Linked DNA regions of Homo sapiens: regions 2, 3, 4, 5, 6 and 7 are each linked to region 1. The links come from fine-mapping of genetic effects on gene expression. A gene starts in region 1. Each other region holds a variant in brackets. All regions are shown on one strand. Distances are between the middles of the regions.

Region 1 (4,068 bases):
GGGACACAGCCAAATGATATCAACCAGTATGCATGCTAGGCCAATGTGGGATTAAGCAAAGCCCCAGCACCTCCTTCCTAGCAGAGTGCTTAAAGGTCCCCTCCTGTATATTACTCAAATTCAATAAATGTCTGTTAAAACACTTTTGGGGGAGTGGCAATGGGACGAAAAAGAAAGAACTTGAATGACCATCATTTTTTAAAATGAGGTCCATTGAGGTATAATTTACATGCAGCAAAAGTTTCCCTTTTCCTATATAAAATTTGATGAGTTCTGACAAATGCATAGTTATGTAACCACCACCATCATCATGATAGAGAACACTTCCATCGTCTCAAAATAATTCCCTTTGAACTACCATAATTTTAAATGAACTCTTTAGAAGAACCACAAAAACTTATCAATGTTGTAGATTACATAACATATACTTGCATCTTGGACAACTTAACATATCTCTCCAAAATGAATAGTTGTTTTCCCTTGGTTATCATGCCATCATTTAGTTGTATTGCATTTTCTTTTTGGAAACCTCAAGGCATTTAGCAAACAGGATTTCATGTTTATTCCCAAAAACTCTGGCCCAACTGTAGAGATTTATAGTCCAATTCAATGAAACCCATGCATTTCTTTCCCAGTTTAACCTGATGTTTCTCTTCTTACCAGAGACTTCCATGTAAATACTTTAACAATGTTAGGTGTGTTATATATAATGAGGTCATAATCAGTTTCAAATTAGCATTGCGCCTTTCACTTATTTATCAATTATATTCCCTTGTGATGATTATGAAAAGGCTCCACATCCTGAGGACACTTGTCAGAGTTAGATTTATTAATGGAATGAAATAGCAAATAATGAATGACTAAATAAATGAATGAGTGAATGAATGAATGAGTGGCTGCCTCCATTTTATGGATGAGGCAGTGTCCGAAAGGCACAGTGAGGTCAGGTGATGGCAGAAAGCCACACACCGATGTTGGTGGCTTTCTGCCAGGTCAGATGCCAAGTTTATTTTCTTTGCTTTCTTGCTTTACTATCAACTAATCTTTAAAATCATTCCCATAAAATATCAACATTAAAGAATAAAAATGGAAAAATAAGCCACATACAATTAAATGGCTTTTTTAAAAGGAGCTCAGTGTGCAAAGGATAACATGAGTAAGGATTTTTTGGGAAATTTTTCACCTAATAGGAAGAATGCTTTACTCTTTTATTTATCAAACCTTCCTCATCATTAAATGGATTCAGTAGTACTTTTTGGTAATAACTCGTGTGTGTGTGTATGTGTGTAATAAAGTACTTTGTATATGTTCATTGTGTTCTTTTTTTAATAAGCTGTTTTAATGAAAAAGACACAATTACCGTCACCATTGCCCACTATATAATGACAAGTAGGGGAGGGGAGGCTAAAAGAGCTTCTACATAGTGAGAGATCTTCCATTGTTATACCTACGCTTGCACTTTATTTCATTTTCTTCCACGTTTGGACAGGTCGAGATTAAATGTGATTACATTTCCGTTGAGAGGCTTTTATTCAGCAACAGGATTCAAAAGAATGTCAATGAGCATAAAATAAAAACGGTGTGCAATTTATATGAAACTCTGATTTAAATGGTCCTAACCAAAAAAAAAAAAAAAGAAAGAAAGAAAAGAAGCTATTTAAAGTAACCCTCCCAAGGGGAGTCAACTGCTCTTCAGTGTGCCCTGAGCCGGCTGTGCCTTCTCTCCATCCGCTGCTCAGATATTCATGAACCGTTGCTTCTTCCAGCCTCGCCTTCTCGCTCCCTCTGCCTTTCTGGCGCTGTTCTCCCTCCCTCCCTCTGGCTTCTGCTCTTTCTTACTCCTTCTCTCAGCTGCTTAACTACAGCTCCCACTGGAACTTGCACAATCAAAAACAACTCTCCTCTCTCAAGCCGCCTCCAGGAGCGCATCACCTGGAGAAGAGCGACTCGCTCCCCGCGCCGGCCGCGGAAGAGCAGCCAGGTAGCTGGGGGCGGGGAGGCGTACCCTTCTCCCGCTCGGTAAGAGCCACAGCATCTCCCCGGAGATTGGCCGTATCCCACCGTCCGGCCCCCAGGGTCCTGCAGCGGTGATGCATATGTTTCGGAGCAATGATGGAAGGAGAAAAGCCGCTGTCGGTGGCAACTGAAAGTGGGGAGAGGTTGCTGCAGTAGCTGGTGCTGCAGAATGCGCGAGTGAAGAACTGAGCCCCGCTAGATTCTCCATCCCGCTCAGTCTTCATTAACTGTCTGCAGGAGGTAAACCGGGGAAACAGATATGCACTAACCAGGCGGGTGCCAACCTGGATCTATAACTGTGAATTCCCCACGGTGGAAAATGGTAAACAAAGACATGAATGGATTCCCAGTCAAGAAATGCTCAGCCTTCCAATTTTTTAAGAAGCGGGTAAGGACAGGTTTTGCTTATTTCTTTTGTTTTCTGTGCTTCTCTTAAATGCTTTTGAATGTTTGCCTGAAGTAAGCCTGAGGTTTTGTTGCTAAACCCTTAATGTAAGCCGTGCTTCTGATGGCAGTGGTAAAGCTGAGAACTATACCTGACTTGATTAGAATTTGTTGGAGGAGGGGCAGGGGGCTATGAAGAGTTGCATTGGGAGGAGGGGGTTGGGCTGAGATGCCTTAAACGGGTTTGAGCTGGGAATGGGGATTTTTCTCTCTCAAGCCACAACAAAGATTACAAGGCAGTCGCAAAGAGAACTGGCTTGAGTACAATTATGGCTAGTAATTTAGTCAGGGGCTAATTTAGCAGCTTCCTCTCATCTTTGAAGGGTTCAACTTTTCTACACCTTTCATCCACTCAGTCTCAAGTGATGCATTATCATCTTCGTTCGTCAGAAGCAGCAGCTTCTGGTTTCCCAAATCCATTCAGCCAATAATTTGCTGTGTCTCTATCTGTGGTATAAATAGCAAAGGAGTAGAATGACCTTTTACAGAAATGATGGAATCCAGCATTTAAAATTGTCTATTTTAAGTTGCCTCAATTTTTGCTTTTGCTTAGAATAACTGCCTTTTTTTTTTTTTTTTTTTTTTTTTTTTTGGGAGAGAGCAGTGGGAGGTCTGTATTTGAGTGATAATTCAGGGTTATGTTGCTGTATGCATTTATTTCTTAAACTCCTTATTCTTCAACTCAAAGTATGAATAATGTTGCATTGGTTGTAGGTGAGAAAAAAGGATTTTTTTGCATGTATATTTCACAATAAACTCAGTTCACTGGGATGGCCACACTGGTGGTCTGTGTAAATCTGCAAATTTATACACAAGCGGGAGGTAAGAAATGAATGATTGTTAAAGGAATGACACTGACACTCTTAAGGACAGTGTTTCCTAAGCAACGTAAGAGAAGGAACATCCTCCAGTCCCCAGTTGCCCCATCCTATTTAATACCCTAGGGCAATTCCACCAAAATGGTTCTCTCCATTCATTCCTCCTTCCTTTCATTCAGGTCCTTTCTGTGCCACTCCTGAAACACAGCCCTTCAGTTAACTCATCCGCAGAACACAGTGAATTTCAGGGTGGGCTGGACTATCTCCCTGCACCAAATGGGCAAGCTGGGAAGGCAAGGCTAGAAATGCAGGCAACATGTCAGGCCCAGCTAGAGGGCCAGCGAAGGCTCCCAAGCACCCTTGACTGAGTTCTCATCAGTAAAGCAAAATCTTTCTCCAAGTCTGTGGGCCAAAGCATATGCATTCAAACCAAAATGAAACCAACCTGTCCTGGCCCCTGCTCTTGGAGTGGGAGTACCATGTGAAATCTCACTAGTGAGCTGCAAGCTAAGTGAAAGCAAGTCAGTGCAACTTCACAGAGCTCCACAAGGCTTCTTAGTTTTTCTCTGTAGCTAAAATATTTCTTTCCAAGGGAAGAGCCCTTTATGAAAATTAATTTTCTTTCTTTCTTTTTCTTTTTTTTAGAGACGGGGTCTTGCTATATTGCCCAGGGTGGTCTTGACCTTTTGGGCTCAAGTGGTCCTCCTGCCTCAGCCTCCCAAATTGCTGGGATTACAGATGTCCACCACCAGGCCCAGCCCTAATTTTCAATAATAAACAAATGTTTTGC
Region 2 (4,068 bases), 480 kb before region 1:
AATGAGAATTAGGTTCAAATCTCTCTGTTTCCACCATTTGGATTAAGGGTGAGGTAGGCATCATGAAGCTTGTTATTGTATTCCCCAAGTTAAATTTTCATTTCTTCAGTCAACAAATATTTATTATGTGGGTAAGGGCCTGACACAGTACAAGGCACAGCGGTGTGCAAGCTGGACCCTGTGTTTACCCTGGACCCTGTGTTCACCCTTTTGTCACATATGTCCTGTTGGATGAGACAGGCATTGATTAAATAATCACACAAGTCTGTGATTACAAATGGGAGAATGAGCTATGAAGGGAGGTGCTATCCACTTATTTACTTCGCTGCAGAAACAGGTGCTGATGTTTCAGCAATGCCAGCCCTGAATGGAAAAGGCTGGGCTCTGAGGAGACCTACATCTAATGGTTACTCTTTTTGCTGCAAAGTTGGAAAGAGGAATGAGGATGAACTGAATTGCTGAAGACCTGATTGGACAGTAAGAATTTTATTACACTCAGGGCAATATTCTTTTGGCTAATAAAGCTGCTACTGGAATAAAGAAGTATTCCTCTTCTTGGGTCGCTGAGTGTTCAAGTTAAACTGACATTACTTTGGCTACAAATCTATCAGGTTGAGGCATTTTTAAGATCCATCCTTGCAGAAAAATTAGCTTTACAAAGGCTCCACAGAATTTCAGATGATATTAAACTACTTTCCATTCATTAAGTATAATATTTAATGCATTGAAATAAGCACTAGTGATAAAAATTTAATTAAGATAATTAGTGTCACAGCCAAAATAAAAATATATAATTAACACTGAAGTGACTATAAAAACATATTTTGACACTTCAGTGGGATTTTAAAAAATGTCTTCAATAAATTCTCATGAAATTAGATTTCCAAATTTATGGCAAAATGATACTTTATTTTTTGAGATGGAGTCTTCTTCTGTGTCCCAGGCTGGAGTGCAGTGGCATGATCTTGGCTCACTGCAACCTCTGCCTCCTGGGTTCATGCAATTCTCCTACCCTAGCCTCCCAAGTAGCTGGGATTATAGGTGCCTGCCACCACACCCAGCTAATTTTTGTAGTCTTAGTAGAGACAGGTTTCCCCATGTTGGCCAGGCTGGTCTCGAACTCCTGACCTCAAGTGATCCACTTGCCTCAGCCTCCCAAAGTGCTGGGATTACAGGTGTGAGCCACCACACCTGGCCCTGCAAAATGATACATTCTAAGTATATATAATTGATGAAATATTTTGCTTAAGTGCCAGAGTTTATACAGTAACTTTACTATAAATTCAAGTGGCCATCTGGAATTTTTCATACCTAAAACAAATACCAGAAAGTTAATTTGAAGGCTAAAATCTATTGCTTCCTTTATGATCATATTCTCATAGAATTTTAGAAATTTAAATTTGTTATGTCTATATTTATAATTAATTGTTACCCCATGTCAGTTTTCCTATTTGGACTGTTAAAACTTTATTTTCTCTTTCTCCTGATGTAAGACCCCCATGCCTGCTACATCTTCACTGTTTACCATCCCCTTTTGGGACTTCATGCACTCATCCGAATAACTTGATTTCAAAGGTCTTCAAAGTATTAACGCAGTAAAGGAATTTTGTAATTTATTCCAGTGACAGAGTCTTTACAGATATTTCTGTCTGTAAGGGGCATTAGTTTAGCACTCAAATGAGGACTTAAGTCATAGCCACACGTGTCAGACTGGGCTCATTGAGTAACGTCTCATGGTTCTGTTTTAATAACTTCTT[G/A]GCCTTAGTAGATTTACGCTGGCCAGGCTGACGTTTTATTTATAGCCCGAGACATTTACACTAAGCCAGAAGGTCTGGACATTCTCAGGAGGCCATCAGTCACTCTAGTGACTAGGACAAGTTTGACAATGTCTGTCATCTTTCACGTTATCCAATCTCTAGTCTGTATATAAAGAAAGGAATGACTTGCTTTGTAAAAGATGAAAGGCGAAGGTGGTTTCTAATCATATAAGTAAGAACAGGTTATAAGGATTTGGCCTTAAAATGGGATCTGGTTTCTTTAGTCACAGACCATGGCTATGAATTTTCTTTCTGTTGCAGTTTGACAAAGTGTTAGATAAGCTGTCAACAGTAGGCCTTTTCTCCTCAAAGAGTTTGTACATGCTTACCAGCAAGTCCTGGGTTCTAGAATTCTGGGTCCATCTACTACTCCCTTCCCAAGCCAGTTCCCAGCTTTGGAAATACACATACCTATACTCATCACCAAATATGAAATTGATTCAGAGGAATGAATTGAATTGACAGAAATATAGATATATTGTTTCTGTTTTATTTTATTTTATTTTATTTTTTTTTGAGGCAGGGTCTGTCTCTGTTGCCCAGGTTGGAGTGCATTGGCACAGTCTCAGCTCACTGCAACCTCTGCCTCCCAAGTGATCCTCCTGCCTCAGTCTCCTGAGTAGCTGGGACTATAGGCAGGTGCCACCATGCCCAGCTAAGTTTTGTATTTTTTTTGGGGTAGAGATGGGGTTTTACCATGTTGCCCAGACTGGTCTTGAACTCCTGGGCTCAAGCAATCAGCCTGCCTCAGCCTCCCAAAGTATTAGGATTACAGGTGTGAGCCACCGCCTCCAGTTATTTATTTCTATTTTTTATTTGTAGTAGTGCTTTTGCCTATTATTGAAAGAAGCCACAAGAAATAGCCAATTAAGAGCCCTCCCCAACTAATATTAGGGGGGAGTCATCCATCATAATCCTCAGCATCAGATGGATAAATACTGAAAATATTTTGCTTTGTTTGGGAAACCAGGGCTTTTCTTCTGATGAACAATGTGGGGAAACAATGACATTGACAATATTTCCATTTTTACTTTGGGTCACAGGGAACTCAGACAATTTGCAAACCAACCTTTGTTATCTCTCTGGGCCTTTTGGCTTATGGAGTCCTATTTTTTCTGCCTCTGATTCTAACAATATAGTCTGATTTATATCTTTCTTGGTGTTCATTTTTATTGTACTCTTTTGTGTATATATTACTTTTAATGTCACCTCAGAACCTTTGTGATTTAAGAAAGATTATCAATCAATAAGTAAGTAAGAAAAGGAGTTTCCAATCATTCTCCTAAGTCCCATTTTCTGACACCATTTCTTTTTTTTTTAATAATTGTATATATTTATGGGGTACATGTGCAATTTTGTTACATGCATAGATTGTGTAGTGGTCAAGTCAGGGCTTTAAGATATTAGGCCGGGCACAGTGGTTCACGCCTATAATTCCAGCACTTTGGGAGGCCGAGGTGGGTGGATCACGAGGTCAGGAGTTCGAGACCAGCCTGGCCAACATAGTGAAACCCCTTCTCTACTAAAAATACAAAAATTAGCCAGGCGTGGTGGCACACACCCGTAGTCCCAGGAAGCTGAGGCAGGAGAATCACTTGAACCCGGGAGGCAGAGGTTGCAGTGAGCCGAGATTGTGCCACTGCACTCCCGCTTGGGTGACAGAGAGAGACTTCATCTAAAAAAAAAAAAAAAAAAAATCCTTCCCCTGAATAATGTACATTGTACCCATTAAGTAATTTCTCATCACCCAACCTCTTCCCACCCCCTCCCATTCCCTCTCACTTTGATGCCTCCATTGTCTATCAATCTACTGTCTTTATCCACATGTGTACATTTTTTAGACCTACTTATGAGTGAGAACATGTAGTATTTGACTTTCTAGTGACACCATTTCTTACAAATGGTCAGGTCCTATGTGTTTTTGGATCAGTATGTCAGGAGGAGGAGGCTGGGAGGAAAAAGTTGGATTTCCTTGAAGTTGGCTTCTCTTGACACCTCCCACTGTTTAAAGAGTCAGCTCATTGTCTCAGAGCCAAACTGCTGAGATTCTCAGAGCCATTCCTCATTCTCTTGGAAGTAAAGGGATTCATGTTTGAAAGAGGCAATTTATCTCTAAAGGGGAAGCAAAAAGACCTAACTTGTGTAGTATAAAATCTTGGGAAGTTTTAGGATTATTTCACATTCCTATTTCTACCGGCAACCAAATTCAAAAAGTATGTTTTGTTGAAAATAAGGTCAGACTTATTTTCAT
Region 3 (4,068 bases), 400 kb before region 1:
GTATTCAAAGGCATAAGATGATTTAGAGATCACAAAGTCTGGATCAAACCCAGATGCTATGACCCTGTGTCTCATGACCCAGCATTTCTCCAGCTAAAGAATTTCAAAATGTGAAGGAGAATAGCTCCTGAATATAGATTTTTTTTTTAAAGGTAAGGCACTGTTCTATTTATTTAGTGCACTTTGCTGAAACTGTTTTCTATCAGTATTAGAAAAGCATACAGTATAACTCGAAGATTTTTTAAAATAACAAAAAGTTCAGCTTGTTGTATGGCTGTGTGCTAATTCCTGATGTAGTGGGACTCTTTTTTCTCCACAGGAACTGTATTCTGTGAAGCAAATCTTTCCATAATCTCTAATACTGCCCCACAAGTCCTGAGTGAATTACATACTTTCATTATAGCCCTCCCTCCTCCACATTCTCCCGACCCTGGAAAAATAGCCTACTTTTCTATGAGGGAAAGAAAAAGAGGCCGTTAAAGAGGCCGTTACTTTGTGTCTGAAAAGAGTGAAGGAATTACTGAGCTACTTACAAGCTCTACACATGTGGAATCAATATAATTTTCCATCAGATGGTTCAAAAATGTATTCAAATTATGTGGTTTTGCAATGCTAAACTTTGGAATTTAGTTGTTAATAGGAAAGTTTTTAGGATAGTTTGCCTACCGAGTGCCATTATTGAATTTGAATAGCAAATTGTTTATAATCATACACAAACAATCTTTATTTAGGTTTTACCCATGTTTCCTGAAGGGCAGGGCAAGTTCTGAGTATATTATTCCTCTCTGTCTACTGGGAAGGTCAGGATTACAGACAATTAGAAGAAAGTCAGGGCATGAACAGATCTCTCTATGTATTCCATTAGTCTCCTGTTTTGATATTTATCCATGAATTTGAAGTCACATTTACTTAGCTACCATCTGATTTCCATGCAAGGTTTTTCGTAAAGAATATGACAGTGCTTAAAAATATGTGAATTTTTAAATAAGACTTTTGAAGCAATAATATAAAGGTAGATCAATGATTAATGTGGAATTAGATATCTACAAGAACTCCTGAGATGCAGCACCTCAAAATATAGTTGAACTGGGTTAAAATATGTAAATTCCTTAAAGTCAATGAAATGTAAAGTTACATTTCAGTTATGTGCCAAGCAAGGTCCATATAACTGGCCTAGTATAAACTTTTCACATGTGTTTATAATAATGAGGCTGACAGTGGAAGAGATGAACGTGGAATTACTATTAGAATAACAATTTACATTTCTGTAAAATGCCCTCATATAGGTAATCTCTTGATTTTCATTAGTTAGGTATTATTATTCCCATTTTATAGATTAGAAAACTTAGGCATATAGAGCATAAAAGATACAGTGCATGGAAGATAGCATCATCTAATGGAAACCGGGTGAGAGGACGGACTTTGGGATCAGACAGATTAAAAATCCCAGTCCCACCCCTCAATGCCTATATGATCTATGGAAATATTATTTGGCCTTCTTAAGCTTCATTTTCATTATCTGTGAAATTGGGATAATTCTGTTGACTTAACAGAGTTGCTGTGAGGGTCAAAGGCAATAAAGGTATGTAAAAAGCTTAGTTTAGATTTTTCTTGAAGATATGGGGCTCGATGCTGGGAGACTCCAAACACAGTGCTTCATGAATATTTGGTTGAGATCTCTGTTTTGCCATTTGCAATGTCAGGACATGCATTTTTGGGCCCTCTTGCCGAAGCCATAGAGAGCCCCTGTTAAGACAGGAGCAAAGTGACCTCTGCCCCAGATAAAAATTATTACCTTCCTGATGTATTATTACCCTCACCTGGATTAGGCCATCGTTATTCCCAAATAGTAACAATCTGCAAATGCATTTGTACAATAAGAATTGCATGGTCCTGGTACATCTATTTTACACACATTCCTTTTAGGGATTTTGTGGACACATATGTTCACCAGCTTTAAGAAATTGCTCTATCCACATAAAGAAGGATCACCCACAGCATGTGTTTACTGGTCTCCTCAATGTGTGAAGTTAGGGCTATTTGTTTGTAACATGCTCATATTAACTCTCTTTAATGTCTGCAAGTGAGGAAGATGACTGATGTTTGTTCACGCCTAAAATAGAGAAGTGGAGGAGTGGGAAGGAAAATTATTTGTGCAACATTACACAGAAAGTC[C/T]GTGATGAAGCAGGAATGAGAGCCTGAGTTGCTGACCTCTTAATTCCTTTCCTGTCTCCCACAGACAATGATGCTTCTGCAACTCCTGGGCAGGCAATTGCACCTTCATTCTTTTGTACACTTACAAGTGTATTTTCCAGGGAACCCACTGCAAGGGCCTCCACCCACTTACATACAACTTATATTTAGCTCTGATGACAGGGGTTTGCTTGACCTGACCAAAATCAAAGGAGAAGTGAGCCTACTGGGGCCTAGACAGGGCAGGAAGAAGCTCAAAGAACTGGCTCTATAAGAACTACAGAAAAATCTCTGACCTTGAGGTCCCACATCTCTGACCTTGAGGTCCTCAGAGAGAAGCAGCTATAACCCTGATGATGACAGAGATGAATTAAAATAAAAATGCTTCCAAATATCTGTTGCCAGGAAGCAGATGACATGCTAAATTACTCTGCAGATTGACTACTTAATTCAGCGATTTCCTGAGTCAGGAGTTGCCAGAAGAGCCATTTTGTCCTTTCTGGCAAAAAAGCCGCTGGGATTGCTGTCTCCAGTCCTCTTTCCTCTGCTTCCTGCTGTAGGAAGGCCTGTTTCCGCAGAGAGATGCCTGATTAGACAGCACTGTTTTAGTAGGCAGAGGACTAGGTAACAAGTTAGGTCTTTCATTTGACATTGATTGTGGGCAGTGTGGAAGTCATGCACATCATAAAAATACAAGTCCTTTTAGAAAATGTAAACTAGTGAATGAAAAGCAAATTAGACAAAGCAAATGTCTGAAAAGTAATATTGCAACATTTTCATCTATTTGATTTCAAATGTTTTGAAATGCCTGGTTTATTTTTGCACAAAGAGTCCTGCTTCAGTCCCAGTGCAGTTTTTTGGAACTGAATTTTGAGTGATGAGATTAGTATTTGCCAGGCGAATATGATGCAGCTAAGCAGTCTGATGTCAGTGAGTGGTGACTTTCAGAAGGCATAGCAGTTGGCTAGGGCCAACTCAGTTGACCCTGAGCCAGAATGGGCATTTTATAGAAACTGGTGGATAAGCTGTATCTCAGCTCCTAACTACTTTGCTGTACTGCGGAGTAGTGCCTCCACCTTATCTCTAAATTGCTGAATAAGATGCATATAATCCAGCAAGGCTAAACAAATAAAAAGCTCAGAACATCCAGGCAAAAGGAAACAAGAGTAGGAGGCAAAATGGAACCACAAATGAATGGGTTCACAAAACATGGAGTGAAGATTTATTTCTTCTGGTACTTGTTTAGCATCAATGTTGTGTGACCTTGGGTTAGTGTGTGTGTGCCCTGACCACTCAGGCTGTAAGCATCTCAAGAGCAAGGCTTCTGGCATTGGCTTCTTTCAAGTTCGTGTCTTGTTCAGAGCTTTACTTGTAGCCTGTGCCGCTTATATGTTTGCTAGTATTGACTGGTGATGGTTGAGTTTCTTCTCTTCCACAGGGTTCTACCTTGGAACTCCCAATATTGCAGCATCAATAAACGTATCAGCAATTATTTCCGGAGCTGTTGTTTTGGATTACAGAGCATCTCAGGTTATTTGCATTTAAGCAAATTTGGAGTGATTTTGTTGAATAATTTCTATTTTTAGATTTTTCACTCCAACAGCTGGGTGTTGGCTAGAAAGTCACATGTTACTAAAAGTGTTTGTGTAGAAGAAAAACGTCTATTGGCCACGAGGTGTTGTAGAAGAAATTCCTTCCCTGGAGGAGAGAATGGCTAGTTGACTAGATGTTCCTTTTAAACTACTCCATCATATTTTACCCTTGGCAATGAATTTGCAATGGAAGCTCTAAAACCTATTCTTATATTTGGGATTTCTTTAATTCCAAAGAAAAGAATATAAATAAATACTTCATAGGTGGCTTTAAAGTTTCTGC
Region 4 (4,068 bases), 28 kb before region 1:
GAGATGCTTCAGCCTTGAACACCAGTGAGTCACGGTTTGTACAACTCAAGGGTGCTGCCAGCCCGCCTCTGCTCTCCCTCACGGTTTTTGTTTTCTTGGTATGATAATTAGTTGTTGGCTCCATGAATGTGTCTCCCAAGGAAGAAAAATGTGGGCACCTGTTATTTCTGGAATGAGTGTTCTATGCGTTCTATTGAGGTGAGCTATTCACTCAGAGTCCAAGAGGCGGCTGGCATATGGTCACCTAACACAGAGCTCCACTGCGCTCACACTACGTGTTCACCAGACCAAGAGGAGGGAATGTGATTTTCACCTCCCACCTCCTGTCTTCTGTTGAGTTAAACAGAGTACAGGCTCTCTGGGTGGGTTGGGGGAGACTGGGGGAAGGACTTTTAGAGTTAGCAAAACCTTTAAAAAAAATACCAACGCCTGGGCCTTACTCCAGAGCCATGAGGCCAGCTGGGGCACTGGTGTTCTTTCTAAGTTCCCTAAGTACTTTCAATGAACAGCCAAGGTTGAGAAGCACTGAACTTGTCCATCAAGGTCCTTCCAAATGAAACAGAGCCCGGAGAGGCTGACAAATTGCCCCAGGGCTCCATGGCTTGTTAGCTAGTGTGCGTTTATCTGTGTGTCTGTCTTCTCACAGACTATGAAATCCTTGAGCACCTGAACCATGATGTTGATATTGAAATTCACAGGGCCTCCAGCTATAAATGTTTGATGAGGGCAAAAAGCTAGGAAGGAAAGGAGAACCAACATCTCTCTTTCCCTTGCTCCGCAAAATCTCCCCAAGGACAATTATTGCTAACATAAACTTACTGTGAACTTTTTTAACCCCAAAACTTGTCATTAAATATCAGATTCCCAAAACATATGACCCATTCATTTCTGGAAAAATTGCATGAGTCAGAAAGGCCCCCAAATCCCAAGCCCAAAGACTTTACCCTAATTAATCCAGCTGTTTTAAGCTAAGCGCTTGACCTTGCTCACTACCTCATGCCTCACTAAGCTCTCATTTTGAGGAGTCTCATTTATTCCCTAGTTACACTTGACACTTTCAAATTAATAGGCTGCTCAAAATGGCGTGTCTTCCTTTGGTATTAAGACTCCGAAGTGAAGGAAAGAATTATGGGAAGTGCATGCTGTGACGAAGGAGACAGAGGCCTAGAACCTGAGGTATTGCCGGGGCCTCGGCACAGAGTTCTAGAATGTTATGTGACTTTTCTGGTTCTATCCACCATCAAGTAAGCATCTTTCACCTGCTAGTCAGGTGGAATTCAAGTCAAATCCAGCCAATGTAGTGTGGTGTAGGGGCTCAGAATCAGAGCCATAGAACTGTTTGCAGCAGATAACTCAGTGCCCGGCCCGTGTCCCCTCGCCCTGGCCACTCAGTGCATGCAGACCACCATTCCAAATGCCCAACTCTCCACATCTGCATTCCTTCACCTGAGAGCTGCCTCTGGACCCAGTGTCCCCACCCAGGCAGCAGACTGGAAGTGCCAGACAATGAATATCCCCACCCCACCCCTACCGTGGCCTTCAAACCAGAACTAAACAGGAACTGGGTTTCCTGTGCCCTTTCCTTGCTGGTGTTTCGTAAGCTAATCCCCCAAATAATTGAATCCTTGTGTAATGATCTGCTCTGGGGAAACCCAAGGAAGACACAGTGGTCCGTCAATATACAGACATTTGATTTTTGATATTTTGTTTATTTTTGAGACAGAGTCTCACTCTATTGCCCCAAGCTGGAATGCAGTGGTGCAATTACAGCTCACTGCAGCCTTAACCTCCCAGCCTCAAGTGATCCTCCCACCTCAGCCTCCTGAGCAGCTGGGACTACACCTGTGTGCCACTACACCTGGCTAATGTTTTTATTTTTTGTAGACACAGGACCTCCCTAGGTTGCAAGGGCTGTTCTCAAACTCCTGGCTTCAAGCCATCCTCCTGCCTCAGCCTCTCAAAGTGTTGGGATTACAGACATTACAGGGATGAGCCACAATGCCCAGCCTGATAGTTGATTTTAGAAAAGCCAGTTAATCTCTCTGACAGTGGCTGTCCTAGAGTATAAAATAAGGAAAGAATTTTGAAGTCCCACGTCTTCATAACAGCACGCAAAGGGCTGCATCACGTGGCTGCCAATG[A/C]CCTCCCTCACTGACCCGCCTTTCTCCCTGGCCTCGCCTCCAAGTGTGCCTCTCCCCTACACTCCTCTCCAGCCACAGGAGTTCCTTTGAATTCTTGGAACATGCCCCATTCCCACTTGCCTTTGGGACTCACTCACGCTGTCCGTCTGCCTGGAACACGCTTCCTCCTTCTGCTTGCTTGGCTCAGTCTTACATATCCTCCAGCTCTCAGCTTAAATATCAGTTCCTGTAGGGAAGCCTTTTCTGTCACCCAGTCTAGGATTGCACTCATTATATGCTCCCAAATATAGTGCTCCCTTCATGGTGCTTGGTATGCCTAGTGCAATTCTCGTTTACTTTCCTGAGTCCATCTCATTCTCCAAGAATTGTCACCACTGGTCTTTATACTCCTGGAAGGCATGAACCCAATTTATTGTCTTGCTCTCTGCTGCATCTCTGATAGCCAGCCCAATGCCTTGCCATAATTGTTGAAACAAAATGCATGTTTATCTATTGAAAAAAAAATTTTTTTTTGAGATGGAGTTTCACTCTTGTTGCCCAGGCCAGAGTGCAATGGTGCCATCTCGGCTCACCACAACCTCCGCTTCCCAGGTTCAAGGGATTCTCCTGCCTCAGCCCCCTGAGTAGCTGGGATTACAGGCATGTGCCACCACACCCAGCTAATTTTGTATTTTTAGTAGAGACGGGATTTCACCATGTTGGTCAGGCTGGTCTTGAACTCCCAACCTCAGGTGATCCTCCTGCCTCGGCCTCCCAAAGTGCTGAGATTACAGGCGTGAGCCACCTCGCCCAGCCTATTGAAAATTTGAGTTGGAGAATAAAAGGATTTTGGAATAAAAATTAAAACAAAGCTTCCCATCATAGGATCCGCCTTATGTAGCTTGTACCTGTGGCAAAATACGGAGTTGTCTTCTATCAGTTCTTCTGCTTGAAGCCCAGGGAAAAGAGTGTATGTAAAAGATGTGCTTCCCTGTGGCTGAGAGCAGCTTTATCTTTTTATCCTAGTCTGGGCTATCATTTTTATTTTTATTTTTATTTTTATTATATTAGAGATGGAGTTTCACTACGTTAATGTTGTCCAGGTTGGCCTCGAACCCCTGGCTCAAGTAATCCTCCTGCCTCAGCCTCCTGAGTAGCTGGGACTACAGGGATGTGCCACCACACCCGGCTTATCATTTCTAACATGAAAATTTAAAAGTTAAACTTTAAATTTAACTGCGTTAAAGTAATCTAACCCAGTAACATAAAAATGTGAAGTTGGGCTGGGCACAGTGGCTTATGCCTGCAATCCCAGCACTTTGGAAGGCTGAGGCGAGCAGATAGCTTGAGCCTGGCAGTTCAAGACCAGCCTGAGCAACATGGCAAAACCCTGTCTCTACCAAAAAAAAAAAAAAAAAAAATACAAAAATTAGCCTGGTGTGGTGATGCACACCTGTGGTCCTAACTACTCCGGAGGCCAAAGTGGGAGTATCACTTGAGCACTGGAGACAGAGGTTGTAGTGAGCCAGATTGCACCACTGCACTCCAGCCTGGGTGACAGAATGAGACCTTGTCTCAAAAATTGAAAAAAGAAATGTGGAGCTGGAATTTGGAGAAGAAAGGTTAGTAGTTGGCCAAGCACAGTGGCTAATGCCTGTAATCCCAGCACTTTAGGAAGCTGAGGCAGGAGGATCACCTGAGGCCAAGAGTTTGAGACAAGCCTGGGCAACACAGCGAGACCCTACAAAAAATTTGAAAAATTAGCCAGGTGTGTTGGTGTGCACCTGTAGTCCTAGTTGCTCAGGAGCCCAGCAGGTCAAGACTGCAGTGGGCCATAATTTCACCACTACACTCCAGCCTGAGTGACAGTGCCCAAGACCCCATCCCTCATAAAAGAAATAAAAATTAAAAATTAAAATTAAATTTAAAGGCTGGGTGCTGTGGCTCA
Region 5 (4,068 bases), 96 kb before region 1:
ACATCCGTAGAGAAAAATAAAAGATGTATAATGCCTTTCACCCAAGAATGCTGAAATCATTAATAAGCATCAAGTAAATTATTCTGAGATGTAATTGATGACAAAGATCGAAATCTTCGAACCAAAGGTTTCACAAGTACTATTATTTACAATGAAAAATGTGAGACCTGCATACCAGCCCTGTACACGATAGCATTTGGTAAATAACGACTGACTGTTGATGATATTCACAGAAAGTCAGTGACTGACTAGCAAAGAAGGGAGTGACATGTACCAATGTACCAGAAGAAGGAAGCAAGGCTTAATCTACGTCAGGCCTTTTTGCTATTTCTCGTAGACCCCAGGGAATACATATGTCCTTCCTCTGGTCTGTGCAGTGATGCTGCACAATTAGAGGAAACGCTGAGCATCGGAAGCCAGGCTTTCTCCCAACAAACCCAGAACCCCCAACAACACACCGCCTAGTCCCAGCTTCTCAGAAGCACATGCTATGAAGCTCTCTATGCTGCTGAACATTCCCAGGATGACAGAAACACAGAACCTGGGGAGGGTCCCTGGTTCTCTGGGGAGGTGTCTCTTCTCTTCAGTCCCCTTCTTCTAATGGGGTTAGGATAAATGAAGGGGACTGGTGAATTGCTCTACAGCCTATTTGCCATGTTAACAAAGTAGGCTACCTAGCCCCTCAGAGCTTGTAAGCTGAGAATAGTGTTTTCCTGATTTGGCTGATATAAAGGTCTGCATAACAGTAACAAGTTGTGTGGATCCCTCCAGATTCACACTTTACCCTTCTTTCCCCATTCCCTTCCCTTCCCTTCCCTTCCCTTCCTCTTTCTTTCTTTCTTTCCTTCCTTCCTTCCTTACTTCTTTTTAGTCTTTCTTTTTTAATTGAGATAAGGTTTCACTATGTTGCCCAGGCTGGTCTCACACTCCTGAGCTCAAGTGATCCTCCCACCTTGACCTCCCAAAGTGCTGAGATTGCAGGTGTGAGCCACCATGTCTGCTCCCCCCACCCCCCCCTTTTTTTTTTAGAAACAAGGTCTCACTCTGTCTCCCATTCAGAGCAAGTACAATGGCACAATGCTAGCTCACTGAGCCTCAAATTCCTGGGCTCAATCAATTATCCTGCCTCAGCCTTCCAAGTAGCTGAGACTACAAATGTGTACCACCACACTAGTTAATTTTCAAATTATTTTTTGGAGAGGTGGAGTCTCACTGTGTTGCCTAGGCTGGTCTCACACTCCTGGCTTCAAGTGATCCTCCCACTTTGGCTTCCCAAAGTACTGGGATTACAGGTGTGAGCCACCTCACTTGGTTGTTTTACCCTTTTTGATAAGTGCTATGTCTTGGGAGGTTGACCCATATGAATGGCTTCAACAAGTTCTCTTGCCACCTGACTTTCTATGGGATATGCCCATGGAGGCACCAGAGGATGATCAGAGTTGAGAGAAGAGGGAGATTCAGAAATTTACTCTCCAAGCTCCTTCCTTGCCAGGTTAAATGTATCTCCCAAAAGTTCATGTGTTGGAAATTTAATTATCAATGTAACAATATTAAAAGGTGGAACTTTTAATAGTTGATTGGGTCATGAGGGCAGAGCCCTTATGAATGGATTAATGCTGTTAATGCAGGAATTAGCTAGTTCTACTGAGACCAGATTATTACAAAAACAAGCTTGACTCAGTCTTGTGATCTCTTTTGCACATGCTCACTTGCCCTTTTGCTTTTGTGGCATGTTACAATGTGGTACTAAAGCCCTTGCCAGAAGCTGCTGCCATGCCCTTGGATTTCCCAGCCTCCAGAACCATGAGCCAAATAAATGTCTTTTCTTTATGAACTACTCAGTCTCAAGTATTCTGTTATAGCAACAGAAAACAAAGACAGAAAACAGGTACCAAGAAGTGAAGTTGTTGCTAGAATAAATATCTGAAAATGTGGAAGTGGCTATGGGATTGG[G/A]TAATGGGTAGATGCTGAAAGAATCTGGAGAAACAGGCAGTGGGTCAGCTGCTTCATGCACAGAAGCCTACAAAAGAAGCCTTCTTCTTCTTCTTTTTTTTTTTTTTTTGAGACCGAGTTTTGCTCTTGTTGCCCAGGCTGGATGCAATGGCACAATCTTGGCTTACCACAACCTCTGCCTTCTGGGTTCAACCAATTCTCCTGCCTCAGCCTCCCAAGTAGCTGGGATTACAGGCATGTGCCACCATGCTTGGCTAATTTTGTATTTTTAGTAGAGACTGGGTTTCTCCACATTGATCAGGCTTGTCTTGAACTCCTGACCTCAGGTGATCCACCCGCCTTGGCCTCCCAAAGTGTTGGGATTACAGACGTGAGCCACTGTGCCCAGCCCACAGGCAGCCTTCTTCTAAACAGCTACCCTCACTCCTGTCAGCACTAGGGTCCCACTCCTCCTCGCCCTGGGGTGCTATGCCATCCTTTGTGGTTTCCTTAAACCCTACCCACACTTTGTAAACCGTTTCTTTGTTGAATTCTCATCAAATTACCAAGAGGAAATATGGAATATCTTTTCTACCAGGACTTTGAATGATGCATATGTGAAACAGCTGGCTATATACTAGAGGCTCAGGAAATGGCAATGATGTTACTGACTCTGTAATTTAGGTTAGCTTCATAATGTATTTTAAGCAGCCCTGTTTCTTCTTTGCAAAAGGAAATATCCTGCAAAAAATATAGTTCTGCATCTGTATCTACAAAGTAGTTTGAAAGTGGAATTCATGAATGAATTCAGTCAAATAGCCACTATACTGAAGAGGGTAGATTGTTCATATATAGCCAACTTTCATCAGGCTAGATATGACCTCAAAAACTGAAATCAGATTTGGAAAAATCAGAGGCCTTGGGACCATGAATCAGTCTTGCTTCCTAGAGGATGGGTACAGGCTTACCTCCTGGAAAAAAGAACATTTATTCTAACAATCTGTTAGCAGGCCTGCAGTGGTTCTCAAAGTGCAGGTCCCAGCATCATCTGGGAACACATTAGAAACGGAAACTCTCTAGCCCCATCCCCAAGCCTGCAGAATCAGAAGCTCATGGGTTGCAGCCCAGTAATATGTGTTTTAACAGACCCTCCAGAGGACTCTGATGCACACTAAAATTTCAGAACTACTTCACCTGAGGGGTTTCTGGAAGTAGACAAAAGCCAACTTTCAGGAGTCTAGGTAAGCATTTGGCATCAGATGACCTAACAAGCAGTAAAGAATTCAAGAGCTGGTCAATTCGTAAACAAAGAACTTTGTTTGCTTTGGGGAAACTCTGTCATTAGGGAATAGGAACAGGACCTCTGTGTATGGTTCAGAGAAGGACTCTAGTACCTGCAGGGTGAGTGGAGAGCAGGTACAATCAAAGCAACACCCCAATATTACAGGGACTGAAGGCTAAGTGGATTCGGAAGCAAGGCATTATGCACTGGAAATAAATGAAGAACCCTTATGGGGACTGGGGCCCTCATCAGTCTGGGTGTCTGGAATAGCTACAAGCCCAGTTAACAGAATCAGAACTCAGGATTAGTGCTGAAGAAGCATTTTGAGTAGTTCAATGCTTGGGATGTGAGTGTTTGACCACAGCTTTTAAAGTCCCTGGTGCCTCAAATTAGGACTAGTCCTAAGGGCCACAATGTAGCTGTTTCTTTTGGTGACAACCACACATTTTGGCTGTGGGAAGGTGGTGGGTACAAAGCCTCTAGATTTTCAGGCAGGGCGTGACCACCACCTCTTCACACTGGATACTTGCTGGCCAGCTGGTTTCCTGATTCAGCTCATTATTTTTCAAATTACCTGATGTGTGTAGACCTCTGGTTTTCAGTCTTCAGTATATAGCAATGTTATGATTTAAATGTATCCCCCGAAAGTTTATGTGCTGGAAACTTGTCAATGTAACAATATTAAGAGGTGGAGCCTTTAAGAGTTGATTGGGTCATGAGGGCAGAGCCCTTATGAAAGGATTAATGCCATTAATGAAAGAATTAGTTAGTTCTACTGAGACCAGATTGTTACAAAAGCAAGCTTGGCTCACTCTTGTGATCTCTTTTGCACATGCTCACTTGCCCTTTTGCTT
Region 6 (4,068 bases), 75 kb after region 1:
CCAAATGCCCATCAATGTTAGACTGGATAAAGAAAATGTGGCACATATACATCATGGAATACTATGCAGCCATAAAAAAAGGAGTTCTTATCCTTTGCAGGGACATGGATGAAGCTAGAAATGATCATTCTCAGCAAACTAACACAGGAACAGAAAACCAAACACTGCATGTTCTCACTCATAAATGGTAGTTGAACAATGAGAACATATGGGTACAGGGAGAGGAACATCACACACCAGGGCCTGTCAGGGGGTGGGGTGGGAGGGATGGCATTAGGAGAAATACCTAATGTAGATGATGGGTTGATGGGTGCAGCAAATCACCATGGCATGTGTATGCCTGTGTAACAAACCTGCATGTTCTGCACATGTATCCCAGGACTTGAAGTATAATTTTAAAAATAAATAAAATAAATAAATGAATATTATTAAAATAAATAAATAAAACTATTGTTTAGAGTTTTCTGAACTTTGGTTTTATTATTTTTCAACTTTGTCACATCAAGACTTAATTCTCCATCTATATAGATAAAAATGCAATGGAGCTTAAAAACCACAAACAACAATTATCCATAGATTGATGAGCAACATCTAGAGCTTCCTGGGAATAAGTCAGGCAGTATAATTCATTAGTGCAGAGTTAATGAATCATGCAGGTTGGAAAATTGGTAACAATTTAATTTCATCAAGGATAATACTTTAAAACTGCACGTTATGGCCGGGCGCGGTGGCTCGTGCCTGTAATCCCAGCACTTTCGGAGGCCAAGGCAAGCAGATCACCTGAGGCCAGGAGTTCGAGACCAGCCTGACCAACATGGAGAAACCCCGTCTCTACTGAAAATACAAACTTAGCCGAGCATGTTGCCACATGCCTGTAATCCCAGCTACTTAGGAGGCTGAGGCAGGGGAATCGCTTGAACCCAGGAGGCGGAGGTTGCAGTGAACCGAGATCGTGCCATTGCACTCCAGCCTGGGCAACAAGAGGGAAACTCCATCTAAAACAAATAATAATAAATAAATAGATAAATAAATAAAAAATAAATACAACTGGAATTTACAATGAAAATGTTTCCAAAGGACATAATGAATTGTCCCCATTATACTTTCACCATTTATGTTTAATATACTTCCATCTCAGACAATTTAGAAATAAAACTGAACCATCAGTATATTAAAGATGGAATATATTTTTTATTTTCTTATTAATTCATTATCATTGATTCTATATTTTCTATAACCAAAGGCATAAGCTAAATAGGTAAAAGTATTGACAAAATTTTAAAGTATTTTTATTTGGAAGACATGAGAATCATTCTAAGATGTGTTTTGGGTGTTTTGTTTGTTTTTTAACCATTAGTTGAAATATCTATTTTTATTTTCTTATTAATTCATTATCATTGATTCTATATTTTCTATAACCAAAGGCATAAGCTAAATAGGTAAAAGTATTGACAACATTTTAAAGTATTTTTATTTGGAAGACATGAGAATCATTCTAAGATGTGTTTTGGGTGTTTTGTTTGTTTTTTAACCATTAGTTGAAATATCTATTCAGATTGTCAGTACAATCTAGTTCACACTCAAGGACAGATTACTGTTTTGAAAATTTAAAAAATTCTAGGATGGGCACAGTGGCTCACGCCTGTAATCCCAACACTTGGGGAAGCCAAGGAGGGAGGATTGTTTGAGGCCAGGAGTTCGAGACCAGCCTGGGCAACATAGCAAGACCCCATTTCTAAAAAAAAAAAAAATTAAATTTAAATTAAAAAAATTTAAAATTCTAAATGTCTGAAGGACTATAAAGCAACTGTGGGTAAATTTCCCATGTTCAAAACAGCTCTGCTACTGGCCCAAGTTGCCCATTTCCCTCACTCTTATTCCTAATTCTTTTTTTTTTTTGAGACGGAGTCTCACTCTGTTGCCCAAGCTGGAGTGCAATGGCGCGATCTCAGCTCGCTGCAACCTCCGCCTCCCAGGTTCAAGCGATTCTCCTTCCTGAACCTCCCGAGTAGCTGGGATTACAGGCACGTGCCACCACACTTGGCTAATTTTTTGTTTTTTAGTAGAGACAGGGTTTTGCCACGTTGGCCAGGCTGGTCTCGAACTCCTGACCTCAGGTGATCTGCCCACCTTGGCCTCCCAAAGTGCTGGGATTACAGGCGTGAGCCACCGCGC[C/T]CAGCCTTATTCCTAATTTCAAAATTCCTAGTTGCTCCCTTTCTTCCCTCTGCGGTTCATGAGCACCAGCACGTTGGTCATTGCTTCCACTTGCTCAATCCCTTCATGCAGTTTTAACCTCACTTGTCTCTGGCCTATCTTGTTTCTCACTTAGCCACATTAATCCCTTCTCTCCCTTTCCTCTGGGACTCCTGACAGTAAACACCATTCGGTCATTAAGCTTTCCTCAAAATCCTCCCTCTGCCCTCCCATCTTGTGACACAGGATTGTAACTTCATATAATAAAACAAGGCTGGGCACGGTGGCTCATGCCTGTAATCCCAGCACTTTGGGAGGCCGAGGTGGGCGGATCACGAGGTCAGGAGATCGAGACCATCCTGGCTAACGCGGTGAAACGCCGTCTCTACTAAAAATACAAAAAATTAGCCGGGTGTGGTGGCGGGCGCCTGTAGTCCCAGCTACTCGGGAGGCTGAGGCAGGAGAATGGCCTGAACCCGGGAGGCGGAGCTTGCAGCGAGCCGAGATTGTCCCACTGCACTCCAGCCTGGGTGACAGAGCGAGACTCCATCTCAAAAAATAAATAAATAAATAAACAAGTTTGTTGGCTACATGTGATTTCAATCTAGGAAGACAGACTTCGTAGAGCCTGCATTTGGGTGTGCACTCTTACAAATTCCGAGGAGGGAGAGGCTCAGCATTCCCCAGATAGATCAGACCAAAAGCATCTTTGGGCTGGGCAGGGTGGTTCACACCAGCATTTTGGGAGGCCGAGGTGGCAGGATCACCTGAGGCCTAGAGTTTGAGACCAGCCTGGAAAACAAAGCGAGACTCCATCTCTAAAAAGAAAAAAACATCTTCAGAGCCTGGGTCCATTGACCCACACCTGCAATCCCAGCACTTTGGGAGGCCAAGGCAGCAGATCACTTGAGCTCAGGAGTTCAAGAGAAGCCTGGGCAACATGGTGAAACCCTATCTCTACAGAAAATATAAAAAATAGCCGGATGTGGTAGTGGATGCCTGTAGTCCCAGCTACTCAGGAGGCTTAGGTGGTCGAATTGCTTGAGCCAGGGAGTCTGAGACTGCAGTGAGCCGAGATCATGCCACTGCACTCCAGTCTGAGTGACAGAACTGGACCCTGTCTCAAAAAAAAAAAAAAAAAAAGAAAAAAAGAAAAGAAACATCTTCAGGAAAGTGCTGCCTTAATTGAGATTTGATTTTCTACTAAAGATGAAACATTTTCTCTGATGCCCTCAAGCAGAAAGGGCTTCTTCTCCAGTCTTGTCTGGCTCAGAGCCAAGAGTTCGGCGGGCACTAACTTGACTTTCAAGAACTTCGCCAACTTTGCTCAACCACACCCACCCTTCCTCTGCCCTCACTGTCATCATCTACTAACCTCGAAGACACTTCCTTTAATCTTGGTGCCTGATGTAATCGTTTTTCTCTCTACTTGTTCACAAACAACCATTCTGGGGAATTTCAATATTTGTTCTCATTATTCAGCTAACAAGAATAACAGTACTAGGAATAATGACAACTAATATATCATTTTTGAATGTCTACTGTGCACCAATAAGTATCTTCAGCACTTGACATGCATTATCTCATTTAATTTCCACAACTACTGTATGTAAGAGATAGCATTATTTCCAATTTGCTGATGAGGAAAATACATTATTTAACAAGTCCAGGAATATACAGGATATTCAGCGGCAGAGCCAGGATTCCGAACAATATTTAACTGGCCAAAATGCCTTTCCCTACATTATATTTTTAGACTCTTTCACTATACATCTCTAGCTCCATTCCTCCATAAATCTACTGACATGGTTATTTATTGGATCTTACAATTATCCTAAATTCCTCCTCCTGTAGGTGTTTAAACTCTCCAGTTCC
Region 7 (4,068 bases), 150 kb after region 1:
GTTGCCTAAAACCAGATCCCCTAGCACGTGAGCTGGCTTGACTTAAGTGCCAAGGGGGAACCAGCCAAGTAGGATTGTGCCTAATCCAGAATAGATGAGCAGAACAAGGGCTCCCTTTTTTCTTCACTACACAACTACAGTGAACCTAAAATGCCTCTAATACCTTTAGCAATTATCTTTAAGAGGATATCTTATGAAGTGAAATTAACTTGTGCAACTACTTTTCTATTCACTTTTTTACAGAGACTTAAAACCAGAGAATATTTTGCTAGATTCACAGGGACACATTGTCCTTACTGACTTCGGACTCTGCAAGGAGAACATTGAACACAACAGCACAACATCCACCTTCTGTGGCACGCCGGAGGTAGGCGCTGTCTTGGTTTGGTGCCTGGTTTACCCCCGCCTTCCAAGAGAGAGATGTACAATCATGCACTTAACTACCAAAAAGAGTAAACTCCTCTCAGAGACTTCTTAATACAGTTCAGTGCAAATAAAATACATTTGCTGTTTGATGTAGCATGAGAAATCCCAAGTCCTTCTGTTCCTTTACTGAAAAGTAGCTGTTTGTAAGTAAGATCTGCATCATAAAAACTTTCTAAATCCCTAAGTAAGAGATATCAAGTGCCCAGCAGTTTCCTAAATGTCAGTACACATAGGTAGCCAGTCACCCTCAAAAAGTCCAGCAGTTTTATCAGGAAGGAATCTAAAGATATCTATCTTCCAAGCTGGCTCTGGGTCTCTCAGCTTTTTCAAACTAAATGTGTGGTCGTGGGATTGCTTGCTTTCGCAGGTTCTAAACGCTGTTTCCCTGGTCTGTTTTTCAGTATCTCGCACCTGAGGTGCTTCATAAGCAGCCTTATGACAGGACTGTGGACTGGTGGTGCCTGGGAGCTGTCTTGTATGAGATGCTGTATGGCCTGGTGAGTGGCACATTGGGAACCATGGAACACTGCCTGCTCCCTACAATATTGCCTTCACACAGCCCATGCTTGGCCATGGTGTCTTGCCCTTACCAGTACGCTTATCAAAAGCAGCTAAGAGGCATATTGGTTATTTTATAGTTCATAAGAATAATCACTTACCTGGTTCTTTTGTGCATTTCACATTTTACTAGATAGGACCACATTGAACCTGTGTGGTGGTGAAAAACTACCACTTATTAACATCTACCCCCTCACCCTCCACACACACACACACAAACACACACACGGGTTGCAAAGTAGACACTTAAATAGCAAGGGAAAAGAAAGCATTGAGGTGGGGAGAGTTTCTCAAATCGAGCCTAATATTTATTGCCGTTTATATCTTTTTCTCTACTGGTAATGTGTGCCATATGAAACTTCCAATTAAGTCTAAAGTAATTTTCCCCTTCTTTCAGCCGCCTTTTTATAGCCGAAACACAGCTGAAATGTACGACAACATTCTGAACAAGCCTCTCCAGCTGAAACCAAATATTACAAATTCCGCAAGACACCTCCTGGAGGGCCTCCTGCAGAAGGACAGGACAAAGCGGCTCGGGGCCAAGGATGACTTCGTGAGTGATGTTTTCCTGTCCTCCTGGGCCGGCCGGGACGTGCACTAGACCTCCCTGCCCTTATTGAATGCACCTGTCTAAATTAATCTTGGGTTTCTTATCAACAGATGGAGATTAAGAGTCATGTCTTCTTCTCCTTAATTAACTGGGATGATCTCATTAATAAGAAGATTACTCCCCCTTTTAACCCAAATGTGGTGAGTATCTGTCTCTCTTCTAAGTATAGAGAAGCCCAAAGGGCATTTATTTTAATTCAGAATTGTCTGGGGGAGGGTTGGAAGGAATACATTGGCAGATGTTTTCTCCATAAACCTGTTATTTTACCTACATAAAAAGCACATTTTTGTGTCCCAACAAGGCTCCCATAATTTTTAGACACATTTATCAATTCGAAGCACCAAAAGGCAACAAGTGAACATTATTCTTATGTTTAACTGTGTGTAGCCTTTTGAGATTTTGTGCTTGAAGTGGGTGATTATGGAAGTTGATATAAGACTTAAACTTGGTATTTAAAGCCTGGTCAAGATTTCCCTGTCCTGTGTCTAGTGTGAGTTCTTGACA[A/G]GAGTGTTTTTCCCTTCCCGTCACAGAGTGGGCCCAACGACCTACGGCACTTTGACCCCGAGTTTACCGAAGAGCCTGTCCCCAACTCCATTGGCAAGTCCCCTGACAGCGTCCTCGTCACAGCCAGCGTCAAGGAAGCTGCCGAGGCTTTCCTAGGCTTTTCCTATGCGCCTCCCACGGACTCTTTCCTCTGAACCCTGTTAGGGCTTGGTTTTAAAGGATTTTATGTGTGTTTCCGAATGTTTTAGTTAGCCTTTTGGTGGAGCCGCCAGCTGACAGGACATCTTACAAGAGAATTTGCACATCTCTGGAAGCTTAGCAATCTTATTGCACACTGTTCGCTGGAAGCTTTTTGAAGAGCACATTCTCCTCAGTGAGCTCATGAGGTTTTCATTTTTATTCTTCCTTCCAACGTGGTGCTATCTCTGAAACGAGCGTTAGAGTGCCGCCTTAGACGGAGGCAGGAGTTTCGTTAGAAAGCGGACGCTGTTCTAAAAAAGGTCTCCTGCAGATCTGTCTGGGCTGTGATGACGAATATTATGAAATGTGCCTTTTCTGAAGAGATTGTGTTAGCTCCAAAGCTTTTCCTATCGCAGTGTTTCAGTTCTTTATTTTCCCTTGTGGATATGCTGTGTGAACCGTCGTGTGAGTGTGGTATGCCTGATCACAGATGGATTTTGTTATAAGCATCAATGTGACACTTGCAGGACACTACAACGTGGGACATTGTTTGTTTCTTCCATATTTGGAAGATAAATTTATGTGTAGACTTTTTTGTAAGATACGGTTAATAACTAAAATTTATTGAAATGGTCTTGCAATGACTCGTATTCAGATGCTTAAAGAAAGCATTGCTGCTACAAATATTTCTATTTTTAGAAAGGGTTTTTATGGACCAATGCCCCAGTTGTCAGTCAGAGCCGTTGGTGTTTTTCATTGTTTAAAATGTCACCTGTAAAATGGGCATTATTTATGTTTTTTTTTTTGCATTCCTGATAATTGTATGTATTGTATAAAGAACGTCTGTACATTGGGTTATAACACTAGTATATTTAAACTTACAGGCTTATTTGTAATGTAAACCACCATTTTAATGTACTGTAATTAACATGGTTATAATACGTACAATCCTTCCCTCATCCCATCACACAACTTTTTTTGTGTGTGATAAACTGATTTTGGTTTGCAATAAAACCTTGAAAAATATTTACATATATTGTGTCATGTGTTATTTTGTATATTTTGGTTAAGGGGGTAATCATGGGTTAGTTTAAAATTGAAAACCATGAAAATCCTGCTGTAATTTCCTGCTTAGTGGTTTGCTCCCAACAGCAGTGGTTTCTGACTCCAGGGGAGTATAGGATGGTCTTAAAGCCAACCTACGTTCCAGGCCTTTTTAGCAGCATTTTATGGTGTCTGTCATTCATAAATCCATCCAAGGAAATCCTTTGCAATTTACTCATCTTGCAAGGATTGCTATGAAGTAATGCTTCCTGTATTTATTGCCTGTCCTGTGAAGTTGGACTATTTGTCCTGACATTTGGCTTGTCTTCAGTTACAGGTAATTCTTTCCAGAAATATTTGAAAGCCTACTCTGGGCTCTATTGCGAGTGCTCAGGATATCGTAGTGGACAAAGCAGACAACTTCGCCCTTCCAGAGCCTGATGAAGAAGGCCGACCTAAAGCAGTTAGTTGAGATGGAAATTGAGAAATAGTCTGTGAAGTTTAGGAGAATGCCACACAAGAGGGTGAGAATTTTTTTTTTTTTTTTTTTTTTTTTTGAGACACGGTCTTACTCTGTCGCCCAGGCTGGAGTGCAGTGGTGTGATCTTGGTTCACTGCAGCCTCCGCCTCCTGGGTTCATGTGATCCCCCCATCTCAGCCTCCTGAGTAGCTGGGACTACAGGCATGCACCACCATGCCTGGCTAATTTTTGTATTTTAGTAGAGATGGGATTTCACCATGTGGGC

The links.
Region 2: its variant is fine-mapped to the expression of SGK1 in tibial artery (GTEx, PIP above 0.99).
Region 3: its variant is fine-mapped to the expression of SGK1 in whole blood (TOPMed, PIP above 0.99).
Region 4: its variant is fine-mapped to the expression of SGK1 in whole blood (TOPMed, PIP above 0.99).
Region 5: its variant is fine-mapped to the expression of SGK1 in whole blood (TOPMed, PIP above 0.99).
Region 6: its variant is fine-mapped to the expression of SGK1 in whole blood (TOPMed, PIP above 0.99).
Region 7: its variant is fine-mapped to the expression of SGK1 in whole blood (INTERVAL, PIP above 0.99).

The regions. Positions count from the first base shown.
Region 1 is chr6:134,315,728-134,319,795 of GRCh38, reverse strand. SGK1 (serum/glucocorticoid regulated kinase 1) reads left to right here and starts at 1,684. Exons shown (of 14, transcript NM_001143676.3): 1 at 1,684-2,404. The coding sequence starts at 2,336. RefSeq lists an enhancer at 1,857-2,136.
Region 2 is chr6:134,795,641-134,799,708 of GRCh38, reverse strand. All of the region lies in intron 3 of LOC101928277 (a long non-coding RNA gene), which reads left to right. Among named protein-coding and RNA genes, the nearest start is that of ALDH8A1, 150 kb to the left of the region's middle. The variant G/A (reference allele first, on the strand shown) is at 1,758.
Region 3 is chr6:134,719,111-134,723,178 of GRCh38, reverse strand. The region is part of intron 3 of LOC101928277 (a long non-coding RNA gene); the gene reads left to right. Among named protein-coding and RNA genes, the nearest start is that of LINC03002, 180 kb to the right of the region's middle. The variant C/T (reference allele first, on the strand shown) is at 2,176.
Region 4 is chr6:134,344,152-134,348,219 of GRCh38, reverse strand. LOC105378009 (a long non-coding RNA gene) reads left to right here. Exons shown (of 2, transcript XR_943002.3): 1 at 1-24. Among named protein-coding and RNA genes, the nearest start is that of SGK1, 28 kb to the right of the region's middle. The variant A/C (reference allele first, on the strand shown) is at 2,142.
Region 5 is chr6:134,411,299-134,415,366 of GRCh38, reverse strand. No RefSeq gene overlaps it. Among named protein-coding and RNA genes, the nearest start is that of LINC01010, 24 kb to the left of the region's middle. The variant G/A (reference allele first, on the strand shown) is at 1,954.
Region 6 is chr6:134,240,317-134,244,384 of GRCh38, reverse strand. All of the region lies in intron 2 of SGK1 (serum/glucocorticoid regulated kinase 1), which reads left to right. Among named protein-coding and RNA genes, the nearest start is that of SGK1, 76 kb to the left of the region's middle. RefSeq lists enhancers at 3,384-3,433, 3,474-3,533. The variant C/T (reference allele first, on the strand shown) is at 2,176.
Region 7 is chr6:134,168,492-134,172,559 of GRCh38, reverse strand. SGK1 (serum/glucocorticoid regulated kinase 1) reads left to right here. Exons shown (of 14, transcript NM_001143676.3): 10 at 244-367; 11 at 828-923; 12 at 1,382-1,537; 13 at 1,645-1,734; 14 at 2,125-3,304. The coding sequence ends at 2,292. Among named protein-coding and RNA genes, the nearest start is that of SLC2A12, 120 kb to the right of the region's middle. The variant A/G (reference allele first, on the strand shown) is at 2,099.